2 linked regions of the Homo sapiens genome follow. The protein of the gene in region 2 purifies or fractionates together with the protein of the main gene of each other region. This does not show direct contact. Each region holds a gene or a part of one and is shown on either strand. Other genes may lie near its edges.

Region 1 (3,745 bases), on a different chromosome or scaffold from region 2:
CTGTTTCCACTGTTACTGATCATCGCAGCCAGATATCAAGCCCTGCCTCTTTCGATTTGGGGTCTTCATCCTTCATCCAGTGGGGTCTGGCATGGCTGGACTCTGTCTTTGACCTGGTCATGGTGGCTGAGTACTTCGATGAGTCATTGGTTCTGCTGGCAGATGCCCTGTGCTGGGGTCTAGATGACGTGGTGGGCTTCATGCACAATGCCCAGGCTGGACATAAGCAGGGCCTCAGCACTGTCAGCAACAGTGGACTGACTGCGGAGGACCGGCAGCTGACTGCACGGGCCCGAGCCTGGAACAACCTGGACTGGGCTCTCTATGTCCACTTCAACCGCAGTCTCTGGGCACGGATAGAGAAATACGGCCAGGGCCGGCTGCAGACAGCTGTGGCCGAGCTCCGGGCTCGCCGAGAGGCCCTAGCGAAACATTGTCTGGTAGGGGGTGAGGCTTCTGACCCCAAATACATCACTGATCGCCGGTTCCGCCCCTTCCAGTTTGGGTCAGCTAAGGTTTTGGGCTATATACTTCGGAGTGGATTGAGCCCCCAAGACCAAGAGGAATGTGAGCGCCTAGCTACCCCTGAGCTCCAGTACAAGGACAAGCTGGATGCCAAGCAGTTCCCCCCTACCGTCTCACTGCCCCTCAAGACTTCAAGGCCACTCTCCCCATAAACATCAGACTACAGATTTAGGTGGAAGAGCAGCCATGTTTGAAGGGCACATGTGATGAGTGGGGGGCAGCAAGATGCCATTTCTGCATCTCCCAGAAGGGATGAGTCTTTGTCCCGATGCAAGCCCCCTCTTCGCTGGGCTCCCAGCAGTGCTTCCCTCCTCCACCCTCCACTCATTTTGTTCTTTCCCCCCAACTTTTTTTTTTTTTGAAACGGAGTCTTGCTCTGTCCCCCAGGCTGGAGTGCAGTGGCATGATCTCGGCTCACTGCAACCTCTGCCTCCCAGGTTCAAGCGATTCTCCTGCCTCAGCCTCCAGAGTAGCTAGGATTACAGATACGTGCCACCATACCCGGCTAATTTTTATATTTTTAGAGACAGGGATTCAACATGTTGGTTAGGCTGGTCTTGAACTCCTCACCTCAGGTGATCCACATGACTCTGCCTCCCAAAGTGCTGCCATTACAGGCGTGAGCCACTAGGCCTGACCTCCCCTTCCCCTTTCCTGCCCCAAGGCAGATCCACATCACCGAAGCTCCCTAGAGGGGCAAAAGATGGAGTGAGCCACAGGAAGTTTGGGGCGTGGTGAGTTGGAATGATACGTCCATTTCTCTATGAAATATTTGCTACTAGACTGTTCATTTCTCTCTGACATGTTTGTTGAATGAATAAATAATTTGAAACTTCTACTTGATTTATGGAGGGTGGAAAGGGGAGGGATGGAGAATCTTCCTGGGAGAAGTGGGGTTGGAAGGGTTGTTTTTTTTTTTTTTTCCGAGACAAGATCTCACTCTGTCACCTAGGCTGCAGTCCAGTGTCCCAATCATAGCTCACTTCAGCCTCAAACTCCTGGGCTCAAAGGATCCTCCTGCCTAGGCCTTCTAAGTAGCTGGGAATACAGGCGCGCGCCACCGCGCCCGGATAATTTTTAAATTTTTTGCAGAGAGGAGTTCTTGCTATGTTGGCCAGGGTGGTCTTGAACTCCTGGCCTCAAGCGATCCTGCCGCCTCGGCCTCCCACAGTGCTGGGATTACTGGCGTGAGCCAACCCGCCTGGCCGACGAGGTCTTCCATTTCTTTTCCAAGAAGCCTGGCCGCAGCCCCCGCCTGCATTCTCGCAGCCTCAGAGCAGCGGGACCCCGCCCCCTCCTCCACGGTCCGGGCACCCGCAGATTCCGGGGCCTCGGCGGCCACGCCCCCTCCCTTCCGCTTCCTGTTTCTCTCCAGTCATTCGGCTCAGTACCCCGGTTCCGGCGCTGCCGGGTCTCGGTTCGGGTTCGTTGCCCCGGTGCCGGGACCGGGCCGGTCTCTCCGGCCGCCCCAGCCGGGCGCAGCAGCCGGAGGTGTCGGGACCCTCTGGACCCACCCTAGCGGGCCCCGCCGGCGGTCGGCCTCCGGTCCGGGCTCCCAGTCGCGCCGTCCTCGCCGCCCCATGGAGTCCCAGTGCGACTACTCGATGTACTTCCCGGCCGTGCCGCTGCCGCCGCGCGCGGAGCTGGCAGGGGATCCGGGCCGGTACCGGGCGCTGCCCCGGCGCAACCATCTGTACTTGGGGGAGACTGTCCGTTTTCTGCTGGTGTTGCGCTGCCGGGGCGGTGCGGGGTCCGGCACCGGGGGCGGCCCGGGCTTGGGCTCCAGAGGAGCCTGGGCAGAACTGGCAACCGCCCTGGCCGCCCTGGCCTCGGTCAGCGCCGGAGGCGGGATGCCGGGGGGCGGCGGCGCCGGCGACCAGGATTCGGAGCCCCCAGGGGGAGGGGATCCTGGGGGTGGGGGTTTGTTCCGAGGCTGCAGCCCCCTTCTCACCCACGGCCCGGGCCCTGCTACCTCAGGGGGAGCGACCACGGTGAGGAGCTTTGGGGGACCTGGCACAGGACGGAGGGGCGGTTTGCTGGGGGCCTGAGGCAGGAGGCAGATGAACTGCCGGTCTTAAAGGGAAAGGCTGCAGGCTGCCTCTGACTTGCTCCTGACCTCTTCACCCCTTTCCCAACCCCAGCTGCCTGTGGAGGAACCGATTGTGTCCACAGATGAGGTCATCTTCCCACTCACCGTTTCACTGGATAGACTGCCCCCAGGGACACCTAAGGCCAAGGTAAGATGAGCAAGAGTGGAGCTATTGTCCTAATTCAGACACCTTTTCCGGGCTCAGCCATCTGTCTTTCCTCTTGACAGATTGTAGTGACTGTGTGGAAGCGGGAGATTGAGGCACCAGAGGTCAGAGATCAAGGCTACCTGCGATTGCTGCAGACCCGATCTCCTGGGGAGACATTCCGGGGCGAGCAGAGCGCTTTCAAGGCCCAAGGTGGGCAGGGCAGCGCAGAGGCAAAGGGCTAGAGTCTGGGAATTGGGGGACAGAGGGGAGGGGTCACACTGGAAAGTGGCTAATGGGCTCTGAGAAGAGGAAGGTGAGAATTCTGGGTTGGAGGTGAGGTCAGCCTCCAGACCATCACTTCTTGCCCCCACCCCCTCCCGCAGTGAGCACGCTGCTGACTCTGCTGCCCCCTCCGGTTCTGAGATGCCGGCAGTTCACTGTGGCTGGAAAACACTTGACCGTGCTCAAGGGTAAGCAGGGCTGCCGGCTCCAGCCTCCGGGAGCAACAAGGGAACTGATTGGATGCAGTTCCTCTGGGCAGGCTGGTGGGGTAGGTCCGGTTTTTTCTGGGTAAAGGTGGGGCCTGAGGGGTCCAGCTATTCTGAGCCAAGCTGGTCCTCTCCCACAGTGCTGAACAGCTCCTCTCAGGAGGAAATCTCCATCTGGGATATCCGAATCCTCCCCAACTTCAACGCCAGTTATCTACCTGTCATGCCCGATGGCTCTGTGCTGCTGGTGGACAATGTCTGGTGAGGTCCTGGGAGGGGCGAGGCTGTGAAGTGGTGGGGATGGCTTCAGGGGCTGAGCTCTGGCATGGGGAGACCATGCCTTGTCCTCTTTTCTGAGCTAGTCACCAGTCTGGGGAAGTCTCCATGGGCTCCTTCTGCCGCCTACCCGGGACCTCTGGCTGCTTCCCCTGCCCGCTGAATGCCCTGGAGGAACACAACTTCCTGTTTCAGCTGAGAGGGGGTGAGCAGCCCCCT
Region 2 (3,745 bases):
TCGGGGTGAGAACGCCACTCAGTGTCCGTGGGATCAGGTCAAGCTAGTTGACGCTAGATCAGAAAGTGGAAAGAGGAGGGGGCGGGGCAGGAGACAAAACAGGAGAGTCAGGGAAGGAGCAGATCTGGGAGGATCAGAGGGGTGGAGGTGATGGGAGCCCATGAAGGCTACTACAAAGAGAGTGAGGAGCAGCCAGCAGTGAGTGGCCATCCTCAGGACCATTTGATCCTCGGTCACCCTCTGTGGTCACTGTGCCAGGGGAGGGTGGCGAGAGCCAGCAGGCTCACTGCCTACATCCTTGCCAGCCAAAGAGACTCTGAGACCCACTTCAAACCCCTTGCCTTTCTGTGCTGGCTGGAGACTGGCAGGAGGAGGTAATGGGGCAGTGAACTCAGCTCTGGCTTTAGGGCTAGACCAGTGTGGGGTCAAATACAAGTATCACCTCTCTTACCAGCTCTCGCTAGTCTCTTTCTCCATCTTAATCCTGCACAGAGCTGTACAAATTAAATGAGAAAAACCCATGCATAGCATCCAGCAGACAGGAAGCACTGAATAAATGTTAGTCTCTTTGCCCTGTCTTTTGCATCAGGACAGCTATCAGGTGCCACATGCCTGCTTCAGAGCCATTACCTCTGGACCCACAAGTAAGGACTGTTGTTGCCATGTGCGGATGGGGAAACTGAGGCTCAGAGGGTTTATGTGCCTGCTCAGGGCAATGCAGCTAGCAAGTTAGAGTGCCCATTTGAACCGAGGTCCAGCTGGACTTAAACTGCTTTGTTCTCCTTGTTCTTGTTGTTGTGCTTTGGAGCCAGAGGCCCCTGTCATTGCAGCACAATGGGTCTTCTCTCTGCAGAACTAAGCTGGTCCTGACGGCACCAGTGAGTCCCTGAACAGAGAGGCAGGCCTGGTGCCTGCATGCGACTTCCCTGGTCATGACACCCCATCCCGCAGTCTCTGCTCATGGCCAGGCTGACTGACAAGTCACTGGCAGAGTTAGTAAGCCCTTGCCAGAGTGGCAGTGGCCTTGGACTTCTACCTGGGGAAAGGATCAGAAGTGGAAGCCTGAATAGGTGGAGGGGAGGCAGAGAGGGATGCCTGAGAAAGAAGGCAGATGGAGTAGGAGCAGGCAGTTGGAGTTATGGAATGTGCCTCCAGCCCGAGCTAGAAATGATGATAGGACCCTGTGCTCAGGGGGCACTCGACACCCACCACATTATCCTAGTCTAACTTTGCATGAAGCTGGCTTAGGCTGACAAGACAGGCATCATCAGCTTTGCTTTCAGATGAAGAACCTGGGGTTTGGAGAAGTTCAGACGCTTGCTTAAGGTCACACAGCTCTAAGGGTGCAGAGCTGGGTCTAGTCTCCAGGTCTCTCGACTTGTAAGCTCTTCCATTGTAACCAGTGGAAGAACTAGATACTCACTAATGCTTTCTCTATGGTCCTGAGGACTCACAGAAAGCCAGCCTGGCCTGGGGATATGAGTTAACTTTAAAATATGTGGTAAGTGCTTTCTACATGGAAGGAAATGGGCTAGGAGTTTTAGGAACACAGAGAAGGTCAGAAAGCCAGAAAAGGAAAACCAGGGCAAGAAACGAGATGTTGTAGAGGTGGGCAGAGGTATGCATGGTCATGATCAAGGGATTTGCAATGGAGACCTCTCAGTGTTAAAAATGTGTGCTTACTGAGCAGCTGCTATGTGACAAACTCACTTTAATTTTCGTAATAGCCTCGTAAGGCAGGAATTACTATCCCCATTTTATAGAGAATGAAATCGAGGCTCAGGGAAGCTAAGTGCCTTTTCAAGGCCATTCAGTACAGTAGGTTAAATAATGTCCCCTACATGCATACATGCTCATCCTAACTCCTACAACCTGTGAATATGAGCTTATTTGGAAAGAAGGGCTTAATGAAGGATCTCAAGAAGAGACATTCCTGCTTGCCTGAGAAAGCCTTAAACCCAATGGCAAGTGTCCTTATAAGAGAGACTGAGAGAAAAGGCCATGTGCAGACGGAGGCAGAGATGGGAGTAAGGCAGCCACAAGCCAAGGAACCTTTGGGGCCGCCAGAACCTGCAAGAGACAAGGACAGATCCTCCCCTGGAGTCTTCAGCAGAGTTCAGTCCACTGACATCTCAGCTTTGAACTTCCAGCCTCCCGGTTAGTGGTAAAGTGATGCAGTAGCCCCGGGGAAACTAATGTCCTCAGGAAGTGACAAAGCCAGGGCTCAAACCCATGGTTTTTTTCACCTCAGGTACCAGCATTCATACATGGGCTGATTTATTCCTCAAAATGATCTATGTGGCCAGGCGTGGTGCCTCATGCTGTAATCCCAGCACTTTGGGAGGCTGAGGTGGGCAGATCACTTTGAGGTCAGGAGTTTGAGACCAGCCTGGCCAACATGGTGAAACCCCATCTCTACTAAAAATACAAAAATTAGCCCGGCATGGTGGCGCATGCCTGTAATCTCAGCTACTAGGGAAGCTGAGGTAGGAGAATCACTTGAGCCTGGCAGGCGAAGGTTGCAGTGAGCCGAGATCGCGCCACTGAACTCCAGCCTGGGTGAGAGAGTGAGACTTTGTCTCAAAAAAAAAAAAAAAAAAAGATGATCTATTTACTTGTGCCTGTGGGTCCATAGGGCCCTTATAAATCCTCATGCCAACAGTCACATCATTTCTTTTGCACTCAAGACCCAAAAGATATGCCCAGGGGACATTCTGAGAAAGGACACAGAAGATAAAAAGGTGGGAAGCAGAGGGCACAGAGATGAAAGGAGTCTTTGCCACTGGGTGGCGCCAGCCATGGCAGGAAACCCAACTTTATCCCTAATAACCTGTGGCATCTGCGCCCAGTGGGGCCAGTCACATGTCCCTCCCCAGCACCTGGCCTGGTTGTGTGATGCTAGGTTGTCTTGTGGGGTTTGTTAAATGGCCATGGTCATGTTATCATGCCACAGCAATATACAGCCTGCAAGGGAGCGAGGGCCACCAAACCTCTCCTGGAACTGTCAAAGAAGGACAGTAAAGGTGTTATGCCCAAGGTCAGAGCACACAGAGTGCCAGGGATTCAGGTGGCATGATGAAGATGAAGAGACAATAGAGGCCATAGGAAGCATGAGGCAAGGAGTGCAAATCCTCAATGGGAGATTCTATCCAAGACGTCAGCCAGCAGAGCAATGGAAGGCAAAACCCAGTGCAGAAGCAAACCTCCATCCCCATCCCTCAGAGGTTCCTTATGTGTTTTCTGTTAGGTGAGAGCCAATCCTAGCCCTTCTATTGCCCCTAAGGAAGACCAGGAAATTCATTGCATCCAGCAGCAACAAAGATCAAAGGAGCCCCAGACAGAAGGTCAATGTGGCAGTCATTCAGCCAATATCCAGAACCAGAGCTAGAGCTCAGGATGGCAGGCCCTCCAGCTCCTGCCTGGTGGTCACTGTCAAGCACTTCTGATGGACACAAACTGGTTGGTCAAGAGCCAAGGCCTCCCTGGGCAGCTGAGCCCCTGTGCTGGCAGGGATTGATCCAGTGGAGCAGGTAGAGAGAGGACTCTATTTATTTATTTATTTATTTATTTAGTATATAATTCTGTGCCAAGCCCTCTGCTAGATCTTCAGATGGCAAAGATTCGAGTGTGGCCTCATCCCAGACTGTGATGAGGTTACTATGCAATTGAGGTTCTGCAGTGCCTATCACCTTGCAATGACTGTGAACCTGACTGTGTGCCAGGGATGTGGACTGGGTTTACTCAG

Evidence for each region.
Region 1: the proteins of STMN4 (region 2) and TRAPPC14 purify together in Homo sapiens (affinity purification with mass spectrometry; 2 studies listed by BioGRID and IntAct, with this or other methods). This does not show direct contact.

Annotation. Positions count from the first base shown.
Region 1 is NC_000007.14:100,156,860-100,160,604, reverse strand, and holds the start of TRAPPC14 (trafficking protein particle complex subunit 14), read left to right. Parts: upstream 1-1,881; 5' UTR 1,882-2,105; coding exon 2,106-2,516; intron 2,517-2,666; coding exon 2,667-2,762; intron 2,763-2,842; coding exon 2,843-2,972; intron 2,973-3,145; coding exon 3,146-3,232; intron 3,233-3,390; coding exon 3,391-3,511; intron 3,512-3,612; coding exon 3,613-3,745. Other genes in the region: GAL3ST4 (galactose-3-O-sulfotransferase 4), read left to right, coding at 1-677. UniProt on the Homo sapiens protein: Specific subunit of the TRAPP (transport protein particle) II complex, a highly conserved vesicle tethering complex that functions in late Golgi trafficking as a membrane tether. TRAPP II complex also has GEF activity toward RAB1A.
Region 2 is NC_000008.11:27,244,673-27,248,417, forward strand, and holds part of STMN4 (stathmin-4), read right to left. Parts: intron 54-3,745; exon of another isoform or gene 1-53. UniProt on the Homo sapiens protein: Exhibits microtubule-destabilizing activity.